Linked DNA regions of Homo sapiens: region 1 is linked to region 2. Evidence: fine-mapped expression QTL. A gene starts in region 2. The other region holds a variant in brackets. All regions are shown on one strand. Distances are between the middles of the regions.

Region 1 (9,064 bases), 510 kb after region 2:
ACCCATGCCTAGGTGGGCCTTGGCAGCCTCAGGGAGGAGGGGGCATCCTGGAGTCCAGCCTCTTAGCTGGTTCTGGTCAGAGAGCACTCTGTGGAGAGTCCACCAGGGAGCTGCTCCAGCTGTCCTGGGGTGCCTGGGAGCCTGGGGCTGGGTTTATGGGAACAGCCACATGAAGGATACAGGCCAGCAGGCCTGGGTCTGGGGTCCTGGGCCAGGCGGGGCTTTAGCCCGTGCTGGGAGCAGTGGGGGCCAAGGCTCCCGGAGGGCAGGCAGCATGGTGGAGAGAGGAGGCTGGGGCGGGGGGTGCCGGGGGCTAACGGAGCAGGGCGGGGAGGAGTGGCCAGTGGGTCTTCCAGGAGGCTAATCCTCCCTCTTCCTCTCTCTCCTTCCCTCTTTGAACAGGTCAATAATGCCACGGCCCGAGTGATGACCAACAAGAAGACGGGGAACCCCTACACCAACGGTAAGGGGCTGGGTCCCCCCACAAGGCTGCTGGGGTCACTGGCTGGGACAGAGGCCCTGGGGGAGCTGAGGCTGCTGCAGGCTGACCTTCCTGGATCCTAGGCAGCCTCCGTCCCCAGTGTCCCAGCCCTGGGGCTGCCGCTCTGCTCCCGGTCAGAAGCGGGTGGGGCAGAAGAGGCGGGAGGAGAGCTGGGGGCCACTCACCCCTCTCATGGCCCCATACAGTCAGCCATAGCTGGAGTCTCACTTTCCCAGGCGTGCCTGGCCCCCAGAGGCCACACGTGCAGGCTTCTGATCCAGGGGGATAGCTGTGCCTTCCTGGATTAGGACTGACTTTCCCCCAGGGCCAGAGTTTGAAGGCTTCTGTGCTGAGACCTGCTGCACCGATTCCCAGTGTAAGCAGGCTCAGGGAGGGCAGTGAGGGCACGGGGGGCCTTGGATGAGCTTCTAGACCTCTCTGAGTTCCAGTCTCTTCATCTGCAAAACAGGAATAGTGACACCATCCCCCAGAGCTGTTCGATGACAAATGACACCTTTAAGCACCATGAGGAAGGGCCCGGGGGGAGGTGCTCAGATTTCGGAGGATGTGATTACAGTAACTGCCTTCCTGGGGCTTTTTGACATGGGTGGCCCTGAGGCCCCAGGCTGAGCCCTGCTGTCCACAGCAAGGGGAGACTGAGGAATCTTGTGTGTGTGCACCCCACTGCAAACGGAGGTGGCCGGTCTTCCTTGGAGATGGATCTGCCGACGCTAAGTGCTGGCTCTGGAGAAGCAGGGGGACCACTGGTGGCCACTGCGAGTCTTAACTCCATCCGGCAAGGGGCCTGCTTTGAGCAGAGCAGGCGTACGTTGGGGGCCTCCGCTCATTCCTGCCAGGGAGCAGCTTCCCACTCGGACCCCTTAGAAGCCTCAGCGCTGCCCCTAGACGGGATGGATCTCCCTGTTGCCGTGGACTTTCAGACGGTGTCACCCCCAGCCTCTCATGGCCCCCCATGTGATCGGCCATACGTGGAGTCAGGTGACAACCAGCATGGAAGCCTGGACAGGACCGCCCGATCCGCCACCTCTCCCCCGAGCTCTTCTCCTGGTGTCCGATGCTGGGGTGGGGCCGGGCCTCTGGCCTGGCCCAAGTTAGACTTGATTCTCATGGCCTCATATCCTGCTTTTCTGAGGACTTACACATCTCAAATTCTTTTTAAAAATTTGGGAGTGTTCCCACTTTGCAAGCATCCCGAGTGCGTCCTGGGTGTGACTCTTCTGTGATCTGGCACTTGGCACAGGAAGTAAAAGCGGTAGACATTTTTATAGGGTACAGGTGATCAACCAGCGGGGCTGCAAAATCTCTGGAACCAGCTGCCCACTCTGCACCCAAGGGCCACACCCACCGCTGTCTGGGCAGAAGTGAGAATTCAGGGGAGCATGGAAATCAGAACAGACCCATCTCTGAATGGCCTCGGGCTATGCGGCTCATGAGGGGCACGGAACCTACACCAGTGAAACATCAGGGAATGGAGGGAGGTGGGAACCTTTGCCCACCTTTGCAGCAAGAGCCGTTTCATCTCAATCTCTTCATCAGCCTGGGCACAGAGGGCTGCAGTGGGACGGCCCTGGGTTCTCTGCAGGTTGGCACCGAAGCCAACCCATGGGCTCTGGTGGCGAGTGCTGCGTGACTTGGCTTCAACACTACCCAACACTCTGGAATTCATCAGTTGGGGGTGGAGGTTTCCATTGTAGAAAACAAACCCACCAGGTTTGCCCAGGTGTTAACTATTTACGGTAGAAACAGGCCAGCCAGGCAGTCTCAGGCTGTCTCTGCCATCTGGGGTTCCAGACAGTGAAATGGAGGCAGCAGAGACAGGTGGAGGCTCCCAGAGAGGCAGAATTGACAGGGGAGGGCACCCAGGAAGCCAGAATCACCGGTGGAGGCATCCAGGAAGCCAGAATTGACAGGTGAAGGTGCCCAGGGCCATCTGAAGCACACATGCAGCCTCCAAGTCTCACTCGCCCAGAGTGGACCCAGAAGAGTCACTGGATGGAGCCCCGGGGAGTCTGGGCTTGGGGTCAGGGTCTCCAGGACTCTGCTCCATCATGGGCCTTCTAGTAAGAAGAGTCAGTTCTTCGGACTGGAGGTCTTCCCAGAAAACAAAACATTTCTTTCAGCCTGATGCAGTGGCTCATGCCTGTAATCCCAGCACTTTGGGAGGCTAAGGTGGCAGGATCCCTTGAGCCCAGGACTTCAAGACCAGCCTGAGCAACACAGGGAGACCCTGTCTCTACAGATAGTTTTTAAAATTAGCTGTGGGTGTAGTGGCAGGCACCTGTGGCCCAAGCTACTCGGGAGGCTGAAGTAGGAGGATCGCTTGAGCCCAGGAGGTCGAGGCTGCAGTGAGCCGTGATCGTCCACTGCACTCCAGCCTGGGCAACAGAGCAAGAAACTGTGCCCCCCTACCCCCAAAAAAAGTTTCTTCCTTCCTAACCTGGGATTTATCTTTTTGGAAGATTCCAAAGTCCCAGCAATGGCGTCCAGACACAAGGTTGTGTGATGGTGGGCCGGGGATGCGGGGTGGGGTGAAGACTTGGCCAGAGGGAGGAACATACCCCGACCCTCCGTCCTCACTGCCTCCAGTCTGCCTGCCCTGCAGTGGGGTTGTTAGAATCTGGGTCAGGGGTTCACACATGGCCTGGGCCCACTGCCACCCTCTCCAGATGTATCTCCCCAGCTGGCCAGTGGGCTCTCGTCCCTGCTGTTCCTCCCCACCCAGTGCAAAGGGACAAGGAGCCGGGCCCACGGGGCATGCTGTAGAGATAAGACCTGGGTACACTGAGGAGGGGTAAGGGGCTGGGCCTCGTCAAGAAGCCCTCCTGCCCAACCTGTCGGAATGCCTGGAGCCGGAGCCCACTGCAAGGCAGCTGGTGTCCCCCGCAGAGGCCTCCAGGTGGAGCAGGTCTTTGCTCTGCTCCTGGGTTCCCCCGGGGAGAGGAAGACTGGCCCACCTGCAGGAAGGGAGAGGCTGGGATGCCGATTACAGGCTGGGATCCCTGGCTCTGCCACTCCCCAGCTGCTGACGGGAGGTTGCTGTGCCTCTCCAGGGCTGTTTCTTCATCTGCAAAATGGGGAGGGTGTGGTGGCTCACTGGGCAGGGAGGACCCCGTGAGTTTCGAACAGTCTGTGTGGCTCACACACAGTGTTGAGGAAAACCAGCCCATCCTTATTATCATTCCCAGTCCAAATGCCCTTTCCTCCTCGACCTGCTCCCAGGCCACCCTCCCGGACAGCCGCTCTGGGGGAAGATGAGGACGGGAGGAAAGTGAGAGCAGGACTCAGCACGGGGAAGAGGGAGCAGGACGGGGACTTTGGCAGGCAGTGGGGAGAGCTTATGGGCAGAGTCCAAGCGCCTTTCCTGCAGCCTCTGGCCACCTGGAGCTCGGATGGTGGGGCTGTGCTGAGTCTGACTCCAGAAACCCTCATCCCAGCTGTGCTCAGGGGGGTAGATAACAAGTTCCACTTTCCCTCTCCAGTTCTCTTCTGGGAGGTGGGTACCCCAGGCTTCGGGGGATGACGCCCAGGGGTGAGGGTTGCTCAGGGGCAGGCTGAGGAGGATCACAATTGGGAAAGAATCCTAGCAGACCCCCAGGCAGAAGAGTCAGGAAGGAGTAGACCCTGGTGTTTTGAACTCAGCACTTGTCCGGGCAGTGTGGGAAAGGGGGGCCCGGCGCGGGGAGGCGCCCTGGGAATGTTCCCAAGGGCTCCACCGGTGTCGCTGGGGTTCCCAGGCATACGTTTTGGTGGGAAAAGGGTCGGGGAAGGCAGTGACTAGGTCTCTGTGCCTTTGTTTTAGGCTGGAAGCTAAATCCAGTGGTCGGCGCAGTCTACGGGCCTGAATTCTATGCAGGTAAAAGCTGGGGCGGGGCGGGGATGGGATGAGACCAGC[T/C]ACTTGGCCCCGTGGGGCTCCGGGGGCTCTGGGGGCGGGGCATGAGGGGCGGGGCCAGGTGGGCCGTCCCCGCCCTCCCGTCGCCGTGTTGACTGAGTAGCGCTCCGGGGGCGGGGCTTGGGGAGGGGTTGGGGGCTAGGTGCGCGGGGGGGCTAGGTGTACGGGGAGGGGGTGCCAGGTGGGTCCCCTTGTGCCTCTCACACGTGTCTCGGGCCCCGTTTCCTGCAGTGACGGGGTTCCCCTACCCCACCACCGGCACAGCCGTTGCCTACCGGGGCGCACATCTTCGGGGCCGGGGCCGGGCCGTGTATAATACATTTCGGGCTGCGCCACCCCCACCCCCCATCCCGACTTACGGAGCGTGAGTACCTGGGCCGGGGGAGGCGTGGAGGAGGGGGTAGGACGGCGGGGAGGAGGGAAATGGGGAGGCCCTGCGCAGTGCGAGGGGCTAGGCAGCCTTTCCAGACCTGGGGGGGGGGAGGATCGTGGGAGCCCCAGAACTCAGCCCTGCAGCTGCCTCCATTATCTTCACCCCTATCCCCACCACGGCGGGCATCGCGGAGGTCACTGGCATTTAGGGGGACATTCAGAGCCCCAGAACCTTGTCTGGATGCTTTAATGGGGCCGTTGTCCACTCTTGAGGTCAGCGAGGGGCTTCTCTGAGCCCTCTCTGCTCCCATTCCCTGGGGTCTGGTGCCCTCCATCACTAAAGGGGTGGGGGGCACAGCTGCCTGGGGTCGGGTGGGCTATGGGCCCCGGGGTTTGTGGGAGAAAGTTGCTGATCAGCAAGGGTGTTACTCTATTGTTATACCAAAACAGGGCACTGGAGCAAACGCTTGTTAAAATGCCAGTCCCATGGGCGGGGCTGGCACCGTGCCCCCTCCCTCCTCAGCAGACACCGGAGCCGGCCTACCCCACCTCTCCAGCGTTCCCACCACTTTCTTGTCCGTTTGCTTCCAGGGTCGTGTATCAGGATGGATTTTATGGTGCTGAGATTTATGTAAGTGTAGCCCCGCCGGGAGGGAGGGTGGGATCAGGCGTTCTGTGGGTCTCAATGAGAAGTCGGCGTCTCCTCTCTCACTGCCCGCTCCTCCCATCCCATCCCATCCCACCCTTGAAGCCAGGAGGGCGAGGGTGCCACGTCTGCCCAGAGTATGGCATCCCTGAGAATCCCAGCATGGCACAGTTTGGTTGTTGGTACCCATCAAGGGAGCAGTTAATGGGCCGCCCAGCAGCCCTGTGAGCTGAAACCATCTTCCTGTGGGCAAGGCCTCATATAATGGGGGCAGTGGGACTCTGCCACGTCCCTAACCACGCTGCGGTCAGTGAGTGAGCCCCTAAGGCACCCACAGCACGGGCTGCAAGAGGGGCCAGGAGGCAGGGCCCCTGGGTGCCTGTGCTCCAGGGCCTACCCCCCTTGATGGGGTCCGGTGGCCTTTCTCCCCCTTCATGGGGCCACATGTGCTGCTTCCTCTGTCTCAGACTCACTGACGGCCACACCCCATGTACCCAGCCACCCTTCAGTCCTGGGCAGCTGCCTACAATTCAGTTACCTGCCCATTTGAGGCCAGGACATCATCTGAGCTCACGTCCTCTTGTGCCCTTTACCCTTGACCCTTCCTGGTGTCCAGGACACTATCCAGAGTCACTGTGGGTTCTCCCAGCCCCTCAGCATCCAAGTCAGGCCTCAGTGGCCTGGTGGCAGGTCTGTGAGCACCTCTTCCTTGCCAAGGCCTAGCACCCAGCCAGATGAGTCATGGGTACCCGCTAATGTGTGTGGAGTGCACAGATGGATGTGTGAATGAATGAGTGAATGAATGGAGTGGACAGGCAGACCTGCCTCGCCCTGAACTGTGCCACCTAGCCATCTGCAGTCCTCGGTCCTGTGTTAGACCAGAACTAGGTGCCCAGGCCAGGTACCACCTAATCCTTACCCAGCCGAGGCTGGGAGGCTGGGAAGGTCTGTAGTCCCTCCCAGGGCCCCACCCGCACAGGGTCTGTCTCCTCTCCCCACTCAGCCTTTCCCTGGGGAGCCCCACTAAGTCCCTCTGCTCTCTCTCCTCCCACTTACCCTGCAGGGAGGCTACGCAGCCTACAGATACGCTCAGCCCGCTGCAGCGGCGGCAGCCTACAGCGACAGGTGAGGCCGGGGGCCAGCACTGTTCTGGAGCAGGGTGGGGAGAAGATGGACAAGGATCCCTGGGGAGCTGGGCCCAGACAGGCAGGAGGCGTAACCCACTCTTCCAGGCCTGGCGGGAGTAGGGTCGGGACAGGGGAGCAGGTCTGAGTGTGGCCCTTGAGCCAGTGAGCCCCTGACTTCAGTCACTTCCTGCTTACCCCATGGGGAGGCTGTGGAAACCCCAGGTGGAGACCGCATCTCTGATTCCCAGTCCCCCCACCGCCCCCCGCAAGCCCCGTGCCCACAGTGGCTGTCTGTCTTGGAGGCAGACGCTTGAGTGCTTCCTCCTGGAGCAACCTAGCCTAGTGCCTTTCCCCTCAGACATCTGGCCTGTTGGTAGCTGAGCTCCACCACTCTGGTCTGGGGACCGCTTGTACCCCCTCCCTCCTGGCAGCCCCGGCTCCATCTCCCTGAAGTGTGGTGTACAGGGTGCCGTGGCCCAGCTCTGCTCTCTAAGGAGCTGAGAGTTCCCTGCACAGACAAACTGCTGAAGGGAAAGTCGTGAGGGACACAAGTGTCACATTCTTGGGGGCAGTGTTCCTGGTCCCTCCTCGTTGACCCTCTCTCTTCTCTTGAAACCCTCCCCAGTATTTACCACATTCTTTTTGGGGTGGAAGTTTGTTTTCCCTGCAGACGAGCTCCATGAGGACACCATCCCCCTCCACGTAGCACTGAGTGGAACACACCCCCTCCCCCCACCCCGTCAGGGTCAGCACACTGTGGGCATATTGAGAGGGTTGCCTGTTGTGTTCCAGAAGCTTCCTTCTTAACAAGAAGGAGGGGTAGGCCTTGCAGGCCTTGCAGGAGGGGAGGGTGCCTTGCAGATGGGACCTCGGTACAGGGTGCCCATGTAGTGTCTGGGAGGAGGTGGGAGGCCGTTGCTGCCCCTCACCTGCCCCCCTCCCCCACCCTCCTCCCACTCCCCCTCCCACGCTCTTCCCTAGTTACGGCAGAGTCTACGCAGCTGCCGACCCGTACCATCACACCATCGGGCCCGCGGCGACCTACAGCATTGGAACCATGGTAAGGAGCCCAGGCCCGCCCAGCCCTGGGTGCCAGTCCTAACAGCTGGGCATGGGTGGTGAGGCCCTTGGGGGAGAGGCCGAGCCCTCTGACCAATGCCTTGGTCCCGGAGACTTTGGAAGGACCACGGCCTGGATGTGAGTTAGGGTGAGGGGAGGGCTGGCCCCTCACGCCCTCTCAGTTGCGGGGAAGCAGGTTGAATGGCTGGTCAGCCCACCGTACCATCTGGTCCTCTGGAAAGCACCCCAATGTGCCTGATCCGTTTCCCTGAGCTCCCTCACTATAATAAAGTCCCGTTGAGGCCCCTCCATTCCCATTTCCACCAGGAAAACCTCAGAAACCAAACCAGGGCCGCCTCTCCTTCCCAGCAGAGGCTCCCAAGGCCCCGGGGCTGTTTCTGCCCACACCGCATACCCACGGCCCACCCGCACTGCTGCAGCCCCCTCGCATCGCATCCGAGAGGGGAGTGTGGGTTACCGGTTGCTTCTCACCAGGCTCTAGCTCCTGGCTTCCTGGGGGCTCCTGGCGTCCTGGGGAAACAGTGCCTGCTCTGCCCCAGCCTCCTCCCTCAGGCTGTGGGGTGGAAGGGGCGGGGCGGGGAGGTGCGCGGCGTGGCGTGTCTCTGTGTGTGTGTGTGTGTGTGTGTGTGTGTGTGTGTGGCCAGCTGTTGACACGTGCAGCCCAGCTCACTCTGCACCCAGAGCTGCTTCCAGCAGACACCTGCCTCCTGTACCCACTGGCCCCAGCCCCGGGGTGTGAACACGGGTTTTAGCTAGCTTGGCATCCAGCATCAAAGATGAAAACATCTTGGGAGAGTGAGGAGGGAGGAGGTTCAGAGGCAATATGGATTTTTCCCATCTTTCTTGGTTTTGATGACTCCCTCCAATTTTTTTTTTTTTTTTCAATTTTTAACGAGCCTCAGACACCCCCAGCAGCCTGTGGTGGCTGTGGGCAGCCACAGGCGCGGGTCTGGTGCGGCCCCACCCGGATGGAGGTGTGATACCCTGGCTCTTGGGCCCTCCGTGCAGCTGCAAGCTAAAAGCTTTCATTAACGCACGGAGGGTTCCCTCTTGTGTTTTCACTTTGTATTTTTAAGATTTTCTATTTTTCCCCAATTTTTCTTCTCTTGCACTTGCTGTGTTGTTCTTTTCTGGGAAAACTGGGTGGTGGGAGGGTGGGAGGCCCCTTCAGAGCCTTCCCTGACTGGAGGCAGCCCAGGACATGGGAGAGCTGGAGCATCCAGGACCCGCTCTCCCCAGTAGGACAGGGCTGGGCCTCAGGTGGGCCCAGGAGGACCCAGAGACCCCCCCAGAGAGCAAGGCTCTGAACACTATGCCCAGCAGGCTTGCCTCTCCCAGCGTAGCTGGCTTCAGTGGCCCCAGGCTCTTGAGCCAAGGCCCAGGAACCCGCCAGGAGGTCCCTCAGTGCTCTGAAGATGCCCCGTGCCACCCTGCTGGGGTGCGAGGAG
Region 2 (9,064 bases):
CTCTGGAACCGCAGCTGCCCCACGCTTTACAAGAGCCTCTTTTAGGGAGTTCTTGGGCAAGGCATGAGGGGTCCTGGGGAACCAAGGGCCTCCTTGGCTGGGGCTTCTTGCAGGTTGGTGGGCTGATGTGTGTTTTCTGTTTCTTTGTTCCCTGTGGCCACCTCCTGATGCTAAGAGTAGATCAAAGTAAATGCTTCCATGGGGCGAAATGAGGGTCTTCAGCTTACACAGGTGGCAGTGCGTGGAAAGGAAAACAGGCACTCCACTGCAACACGGCCCGAGCCGGCCGGGCACAGAGGGGAGCAGGGGCCAGGCTCACCTGGCACTGAAAGGGTGGTACAATGGCAGGAGGCATCTTGGTAGTGACAGCCCTCTACATGTCTGAGCCCTAGGCAGCTGGACATGCCACCACCCTGCTCTCATCTGGACTGGCAACCTCTTGCCCGGTACACAGCTGCCCTCCTGCCCTCCCTCCTCTCCCACTATGTGGATCCCTGCCCGCTTACTAGATCCTCTGTTTCTTCCATCCCTCATTGCCCTCTTTCATGCTTTACACCCTTGTTTTGTTAGAGCACGTCCTCTGGTAGCTGAGAGATGGTGTGTGGGAAATAATTTTGTCGAGATCTCGCATGTGCAAATGTCTTTGTTTTAATCTCACGTTTGATTGTTAATTTTGTGAAGTAAGGGATTCCAGGCCAGAAATCACTTGCCATCAGCTTTTGAAGGCACGCTTTGTGATTGGTTAGCTGCCCTCTTTGTGTTGAGAATTCTGGAGCTATTCTCGTTCCTGCTCTTTTTTATGGCACCTGGAAACTTGGGGAAACATTTTTTTTTTTTCTTCAGTGATTTACTTTTCAAGATAATGTGCCTTGATATGAATCATTTCCATCGATTTTGTGGACAATTTGGAAACTTATTTCTGGAAAAAAATTCTTAAGTAATTGATGATTTCCTTTCTTCTCCTCCTCCTCCTTCTCTCTGGGGGCCCTATGGGGGTCGGGGTTAGAATTCCTTTTGTGTTGAGCCTCGTGAATTGATCATCTAGTTTTTTTTCATCCCCTCTTTCTTCTTTTTCTCCTCTTTGCCTTTTTGCTTTGCCTTCTGGGGCATTCCCTTACTTTTCTCTTCCAGCCTGTCTGTTGAGATGTTTTGTTTCTGCTCTCATGCTTTTAACTTCCCAGCTTTTTTGTTCTCTAAATGTTCTCCTTAAAATAGCACCCTGCTCTTGGTTCATGGATGCGGTATCTCCTCTGATCTCTGGGAGGATATTAAATACTGCTATTTCTGATGTTTTCTCCTCCCTGCCTAATATCTGTTTCCTCGAAGTCGGCCCCGCTCTGTTGCGTGTTTTGGCGGCTCCTTCTCATGAAGGCTTTCCGCAGGTGTCTGGTCATCCTTGGCTTTTTACTCACCTTAGGGGGGCTGCAAAGCTGGTTGGCAGCTCCGAGCAGGGAGTGGGGCCTGTGCTTGGAAGCAGCAAAGCTCTATCTTCAGGTTTCCCCTCTGGGTGCTGGTGAGATTCCCCAGAGGAGATTCTTCCGGCCTCCTGCCAGGAGGGTGGAGGTCAGGATGCTGACAGGTGCCGTGAGGGAAAAGGGGGGCTCTCCGTGCAGGACGCCCCTCTGTCCGCAGTGTCTGGCGGCCCCCAGGCCACAGAGGCTGCTTCAGTGTCCTCAGGGAATAAACCTCCAGAGGGGCTATCCGAGGATCTCCAGGCTTCCCCGGGTCTTGGGCCCCACGCCTTCTGAGCCTTCGGGGGATTCCATTGTCAGCCTTCCCTGCCTCTGGGCCGAGACTCAGCTCCGTGAGGGCGGGCCGCCACTTCTCCTGTGCCTCCCCGCTGCCCACAGCCGGCTACTGTTCTCTTTTCTCCTATTCTCCAGGTCGTTGGGGTTTATGCCTTTTTAAAGTTATTCTTATTTGAGATGGAAGTCTCACTCTTGTTGTCCAGGCTGGAGTAGTACAGTGGCGCGATCTCGGCTCTCTGCAACCTCCACCTCCCGGATTCAAGTGATTCTCCTGCCTCAGCCTCCCAAGTAATTGGGATTACAGGCACCCACAACCACACCTGGCTAGTTTTGCTATTTTTAGTAGAGACGGCGTTTCACCATGTTGGCCAGGCTGGTCTCGAACTCCTGACCTCAGGTGATCCACCCACCTCAGCCTCCCAAAGTGCTGGGATTACAGGCTTGAGCCACCATGCCCAGCCCCTTTTTAAAATTTTCTCTTTGTAGTTTTAGTGGGATTTTTCAGAGGGCACGAAATTAGCTCTGTGCCTTCAGTCGTCCTGTTGGCCCCAAGCCCAGTCTCCCTGTGTTTCTCTCCTAATGATTATTACCAAGGACTCCCCAGTCCTCCCCATGTGCTCACTTTTTAAAAATTAAAGTTTCCAAATCAGAGGTTTTAAAAATTCTCTTAGATGACGTCCCCAAATGGAAAATCTCCCGGTTAGTGCTGGTATGTCCTGCTGGCCCTGACACTTACTCTCTTCCGGCCAGATCCCTGTCTACGACAGCTGAGCACGAAGGGCAAACTCTCTGGGGCTGGTAATGAGGCCGGCCTGGCTGGGGCCTGTTCCCAAGGGGTGTCCTCACGCGCAGGCCCTGTGGCCAGTCCCAACCACAGAGGCCAATTTCAGTTTACCACCCGGGCGTCTGAGCAGGCCCACCGTGTCCTGAGTCCTGGGCTGGGACTGGTGGAACTTGGAACAAGATTTGGTGCTGTCTTCAGAGAGCTCTTCCAGAACGTCCCCAAGGAATGATTTACCGGGCCCTATGCTTTGCAGGGACCCCTCTTCCACTCGGGCACACAGCTCTGCCAGGTCAATGTGTCCCCACTTCACAGGCACATGCAGAACTCGCATGGGGAGCTGAAGGGAGACGGAGATGGGCTCGAATCCCACTCTTCGAGAGGTTTCTGCGAGGAGGCTCCAAAGGGCAGTAGGGTCTGGACCAGAGAGGAAAAGGCTCCCCAGGGAGAAGAAATGTGGGCAAGGGACAAGCGGGACCGACAGGGGGCACTGCCGGCACAGCGAGGCAAGAGCCCTGCCTGCAGGGAGACAGGTGCCTGCCAGGCAGTGGCTGGGCCCAGCCGGGAGTTGGAGGCCACGAAAGCCTGGACCATCTGACAGCAGAGAACCAAGAGGCCCAATTAGGGCTTTAGAGCTGGAATGCGCCATTTCAAATCCGGTGGCAGGGGAAAGTTCAGTCAACCAGGCGGCTGCCTTGCTCGTAGACACGGCATTTATCTGGTGGTTAGCTGTGGGGCTGTTTAGCTGTATGCTTGGAATTGTATAACACGATTCCCACCGGCCAAGACAGATCAATGACCCAGACGGGCTGGAGGGCCAGAAATTAAAAGCATGACGCTCATAAGTGGGCAGCGGCCACTGTCTTGGCCACCGTCTCTGCTGCCCTGCAGGGGGGGCAGCCAGCAGCCCAGAGCCCCTACTACCGAGAAGCTCCAAATCCATACTCCCCTCTTCCTGGCCTCTGGGTCTTCCAGGCCCCTACCAAACCCCAGATTCCATGATGTGCTTTTCACCTCACACAGAAAAGCAGGACAGTCAGGTGCGAGGAGGAGGCTAATTGTTCCAGGAGCAGCCTTCAGGAGCAAAAGTGACATGGGGACGGGTTTGGATCTGTTTGTGTGTAATTTGGAAATGTCCTTCGATGGTGCAGGCTCGTTTCTCCAGCCTGGTTGCTGCACCAGAATGTCTTTTGTTTTGGAAATGATTACTCAGCCTCCTGCCTAAACCTGTTTGGGACCGTCCAGACCTTCTTGCCCACTTCTGGTGTTGTGTGCCAGTGGTGGGCTGACCCCAGCAATAGATCTCTCCTGCCTTTCCAGAGGGTCCCCACTCCACTGTGTCCTCAGCCTCTGCTCTCCTGCTCCCTCTGCACCAAGGATAGAGACCCTCCCAGAACTCACACCAGGCCCCTTACTCTAGATGCTGGGGGAGGCTGGGACTGGGGACAGGAGCTACCTGATCTTTTGATTTTAGGGAAATCCTAAGCTGACCTCCCACAGTCCTTCCTCTCCAGCCAGGCACAGGTGGAAATGTTTAAATGGGTTGGGTTGGCCAATCTGGACTAACAGCACGGAGTGGGCCCGATCCCTTCCTTTCCAGTGGTCCTCCAGGAAGTCAGGGCACCTGGGCCTAGTGAGGGGGTTTGGGGTATGTGGGCAACTCAAAGGCATGGCATGGCATGCGGGGTGGGGTGGCATTCGTCCCTGATGCTTGGTGACCACGTCCCATTGCTGGGGATCCCTGGGCCTGGCAAAGAAAAATGGCCCCCAGGGACAGCGAGGCACAAGGGCAGGGGTCCTGTTAAGGGTCACCTGGGTTGATCCGCCCCCAAGATAGCTTGGAGGTGGGGAGGGGCAGCGGGCTTGGGGCTGCCCTTGAAGGGACCAGGGCAGCACTGGGTTCTGGGATCTTCCGTGTGTACCCCACCTCTTCTGTGCCCCTGCCCCGAGGAGTTGGCGCTGAAGGCTGCAGGGTGCTGACCGCCGAAGCCCACCCGGTCATGGCTCTCCCCGCTCCGCCGCCCTCCCCGGCCGCGCGACAGCCAGAGCCCCCTCCCATGCCGCGCGCTGCGCGCTCCGCTCGAGCTGCCACCGCCGCCCGCGCCGCCGCCGCGTGCTCCTGCTGCCGCCTCGCTCCAGCCGAACGAGCCAGAGGAACGAGAGAGAGAGAGAGAGAGAGAGAGAGAGAAGGAGGGCGGAGAGAGAGAGAGAGAGAGAGAGAGAGAGAGAGAGAGAGAGAGAAGGAGGGCGGAGAGAGGAGGGAGGAGAGAGAGAGAGAGAGGAGGCGAGGGAAGAGCGAGCGCGGGGCTGCTCCGAAGCCAGCAGAACCTCCTCGGACAGCGGCCCCAGCCGGGCCCCAGCAGCTCGCGTGGTCGGAGGAGAAGCAGCTGCCACAGCTGCCGCCCGAGCCCGGCCTCGCGCGCCCCTTGCCGCTGGCTCGCCGGTGCCTGTGCGGCCCCAGGACGCCGCTGCCCGCTCGGCGGCCGGGATGCAGCCGGGGCATGGCCGCCGGCCCCCAGTCACCTGCCGCGGGGAGCGCTGAGCCCGTGAGTAGCCTGGCCTCGTCGCCCGCCTCGCTCTGCGGCGGTCATTCCCATCGGGCTGAGCTGGGGGAGGGGGACATGGCCGCGGAGGGGCGCATGGGACCCCGCAGTGGGAGGCGGGCTGCTGAGCGCGGCCGGGGCTGACCCGAGGGCGCGTGGGGTGGGGTGGCGCCCTCGGGGTCAGGGGTCCCTGCGCGGGGTCGGGGTCCCTGGGTCCCTCCGGGGCTGGGGTCTGGACGCTCTGTCCGGCCGTGGGCCAGAGGGGCGATTTTGTGAATGGGAAGGCCCGGGGGTCGGGCTCCATGGAGACGCCAGGGAGTCCCGCGCGCTGCGTGGCGGTGGCAGTGGCGGTGGCGGTGGCGGTGGTGGTGGCTGTGGCGGCGGCGGCGGCGGCACAATGCCCGGCGCGGGGAACTCCCCGGCGGGGGGAGGCAGAGGCGCGCGGAGATCCCGGCCCCGCGGGGCGCGTCCGAGCAGGCAGCCGGAGCCCGCGCGGGTGGGAGAGAGGCTGGCGACCCGGCGGTGGTGCAACGTGCGTCTGTCGCGGCACCCAGGCCCGGAGAGAGCCCTGCCGGGGTCCTCTGAAAGGAGGGTCGCTGAGAGGTTGATGACCCAAAGGAGTTGTGGGGAGGAAGGGGCTGCCACAGCTCCCCAAATAGGAGCGGGGCCCGCAGCACCGCGGTGTGCGCGGGGGCCGAGCAGCGAGGGGCGAGCGGCGCGCAGGGCCCTACAGGGGGCGGGCTGGGGGCGCTCCGGGCCGAGTCCCCAAGCACGATAGGAAGGCTGGAACGGGAGCAGAGGCTGCCTCTCTGAAGCCTCGGCCACCCCCAGGGCCTCGAGCAGCGCGGCCGGGCTGGGAAAGCCGGGCACGCCCCTGGCCCAAACTTTCTGCCCTGGTGGCCCCGGGCGGTGGTGGGGCTCGCCCGGGGCGTGTTGGGCTCGCACGCTCGGGAAGGTGGTCTTCTGTGGCGTCTCGGGGTGGCGCGAGGCCAGTGGTCATTTTGGTGCTGGGGGTCGCAGCCTCCCTCCCCGGGACGCGGAGCCTCCCCTGGCGCGCAGCCCTGCAGTGTCGGTGCGGGGACCGAGACGCGGCGCCCCGCGTGGAGGGGCATTGGGAACCTGTCGGGTCCCCAAGCGGCCCTGGGATCCCTGGTATCACGTAGGGTGGGGGTGGGATGTTCCCGGAGTCCACTGGTGGGGGCGGGGGCCCAGCGAGGTGGGGAGAAACTCCTGGACAACAGAGCTGCCTCCCCCTCCCCTTTCCGTTCCAGCTTTGGCGAGGTACCTGATTTATTTAATGATCACTTTTAAAAAGGAGTCCCGCGGAGCCGCTAGTCCCGACGCGCGAGACACCCCACGGTGGAGGCTAAGGACAGAGACCCAAGGGATCCATCCCTGGGTTTAAGTCCCCCTTCCTGCCCCAGCTGGTGGTGAAGTCGCTTCTCGGGCGCGCAGGTTGCTAATTTCCTGCTCCAAACGCAGGTTGGACTCGGGGACGCCTTGGGCATGCACCCGGGCGCCCCGGGCACTTAGCGTGGAGCAGGTAGGAGGCTAATGGAGTGGGGTCGCCCGTAATGAGGTCTTTCAGCCGGAAGCCGGCTTCGGTTTTACTGGTCTGCAAAACATAATGGAAAAAAAAAGTATAAACATTGCGGCAGAACCTGCTCATTAAGTGTGCATCGCGGATTCGGGACGGATGTCTTAATTAGGCTGCGTTGTTCACGGGGATATTACACTAATTAAAAACCGACCCTCCAGGTGAGCAAAAATTGTGAGGGGAGAGAGGGAGAAAAGTTGTCGAGAAGGCGCTGCCTGATGAAAGCCGGGTATGGGCCTCTTGCAGGGGCGCCCCAGGTCACTGAGCGCCGGCGGGGTGGGGGCGTGGGGGCGGCATGGCGGGGGCGGAGGAGGGGAGCCTTCTTAGAACCATCCCGGCGCGCCTTCCTTCTCCGCCTCCTGCGGGCGAGGAGCTCCCTTTGGCCGAGGACCGAGGCTGGCCCCCCCGCCCCTCCCCCAGGACTGGAGGCCTTCCTGCGTGGGCGCCTCGCTCACCGCTCACCGCACACTCCTGGAAGCAACGCTTAACCCTTCATTTCCTGGCTGACAGCTTCTGGGAGGGCAAGGCTGTCCCCAGGAGGGAGACAGAGCGGGTGACGTGGGGACCACTGAAGGGGTTAAGGAGCAAGAAGCACGGTTGAAGGGACGCACCCAAGCCGAGACAGCCTGGGCCTGGCGAGGTGGCTGCGTGCGTGCGGCAGGGGTTGCCACTGGTGCTGGGCTGTTTGCGCTTGCACGGCCGGGGTTTTCTGGGGTGAGTTGTCCATTTCTAGCAGCTATCCACCCTCCTCCCCCCAAAGAAAAAAGGGAACCTGGGTGATTGCTTTGATCCACCTTCCTCAGGGGCCTGGGGCCTAGAGAGACCCGTGCCCACCCCGGGGACCTCGGGTCGCCTCTGGGTGCCAGGAGGAGCCAGGAGTCCAGGGAAGTCCCTAGGCTCCGCCCCTTACTCGGATGGGCCTTTGCGGCAAATGCTCCGCACCCAGTGACCTCGGTTGGGAGCCACAGCGGGGCTGGGAGTATTCACTGCCCTTCCGCAGGGACCAGAGGCGGATGTCGAGGGAAGGTGGCGGCATGGGCGGCCCCTGCCTCTGAGTGGCTCAGCAGGCACTCAGCGGGCGCCAGCACCAAGGACAGGGCCGGGGCCTCCACAGCCTGCCCTCCTCGCCCTCCCTCCTCTGACACGGTCCCAGGGCCGCTGGAGGCGCTGCGGGCGGCCGCCCTCAGGCTGCTGAGGACATGGGGAGGGCTCCCGAGGCTCATTCAAGAGCCAGAAAAGCCCAGGGCCTGCGAAGAGGTAATTACAGCAAGGAGGCCTCCTGGGTACCATTCCAGAGTGGGCCTTCTGTCCTGCGCCTGTCACTTACTCAACTTGGAGCGTGGCTGATGGCGCATCGGTGAAATGGAGAGATTATCGGGCTCTTTGGTGTCTAGGGATGAACTAGACACTGTAGTGGCCAGAGAAAATGCCATCTTCCCTGGCTGGTTCAGCCCTGTTGCCTCTCCCCTGCAGCCTTCTTTGACACCTCTCTCCCAGCCACATTCAGCCCTGGCCTAAGGCGCCTTCATACCGATGTGTGGCAGTTGGAGGTGCCTTGCTGCTGAGGGCAGGGGCCCTGCTTGGTTTATCTGCCCCCTCCCCCATATACGCAGATGGTGTTCTGACCCATGATGCCTGTGCAATTCGGAAGGAAGGAATGCATAAGTCACGCTCCTATCCCTCCCAGAAGCGCCAGAGTGGTGGTGGTAGGGGGTGGGGGGCAGTAAAGAGAGGAAAACATGTCAGTGGGCCAGAGCCACAGTGCTGAACGCGAAACTGCAATATTATTTTTCAGCCCTTGCAGGGTGGGGCTTCCCTCCTCTAGCCCAGCCCAGCCCAGAGCCTGCAAGTTTTGGTCGGTTGTCTCCCTGTGTTTATTTATTTCCACGCTCCTGCTTGATACTCTGTTATAAAGACAAATGGAACCTGACACGCAGCTGACATTTGGTGAGGAATTTTTTATTTTTAAACAAGTGAAGGGGAAGAAGCCATCTTGAAACTTTCTCCCCCTTCAACAGAGACCCGTTTGTTGGTTGGTAGGGAACCTACCATTCCCTAAATCCCTGCCTGCCACAGGCCCCTGCTCCTGGCACAAGGCACCGGCTTTATAAACACATCCCGTTTGTACCTCCACCCTTTGATAAGCTGCAGCATCTCTCCACGCTCTTTCATAAAGCAGCGCGGTATTTTCACAGGCTCATGAAACATTCAGGCAGCCTCAACATCTTACTTTCTGCTGCCTCTCTGAAGAAGGTTGCTCCCTGAGCCATCCCTGTCCTCTATAACGTCCTGGGTCTATCTCCCTGTCTCCCTGTCCGTCTATCTCTTCCTCTCCCCAACTCTTTTTTCCTCCTGTGCTTTCTGAGTGGCGCGGATGCTTAGTGTGTGATTGCCT

Direction of the effects. Positions count from the first base shown, and alleles are read on the strand shown. Sizes are in standard deviations (SD) of each study's normalised expression.
For the expression in tibial nerve of the gene that starts at base 4,850 in region 2, C is the low allele of the variant in region 1 and T is the other (small effect, 0.26 SD a copy in GTEx).

Evidence for each region. PIP is the estimated chance that this variant, and not a neighbour inherited with it, causes the effect.
Region 1: its variant is the best candidate, but not a certain one, in a credible set for the expression of RBFOX3 in tibial nerve (GTEx, PIP 0.71).

The regions. Positions count from the first base shown.
Region 1 is chr17:79,092,983-79,102,046 of GRCh38, reverse strand. RBFOX3 (RNA binding fox-1 homolog 3) reads left to right here. Exons shown (of 15, transcript NM_001350451.2): 9 at 403-463; 10 at 4,302-4,355; 11 at 4,623-4,755; 12 at 5,214-5,394; 13 at 6,473-6,534; 14 at 7,518-7,596. Among named protein-coding and RNA genes, the nearest start is that of ENGASE, 23 kb to the right of the region's middle. RefSeq lists an enhancer at 3,223-3,936. The variant T/C (reference allele first, on the strand shown) is at 4,395.
Region 2 is chr17:79,606,837-79,615,900 of GRCh38, reverse strand. RBFOX3 (RNA binding fox-1 homolog 3) reads left to right here and starts at 4,850. Exons shown (of 15, transcript NM_001350451.2): 1 at 4,850-5,075.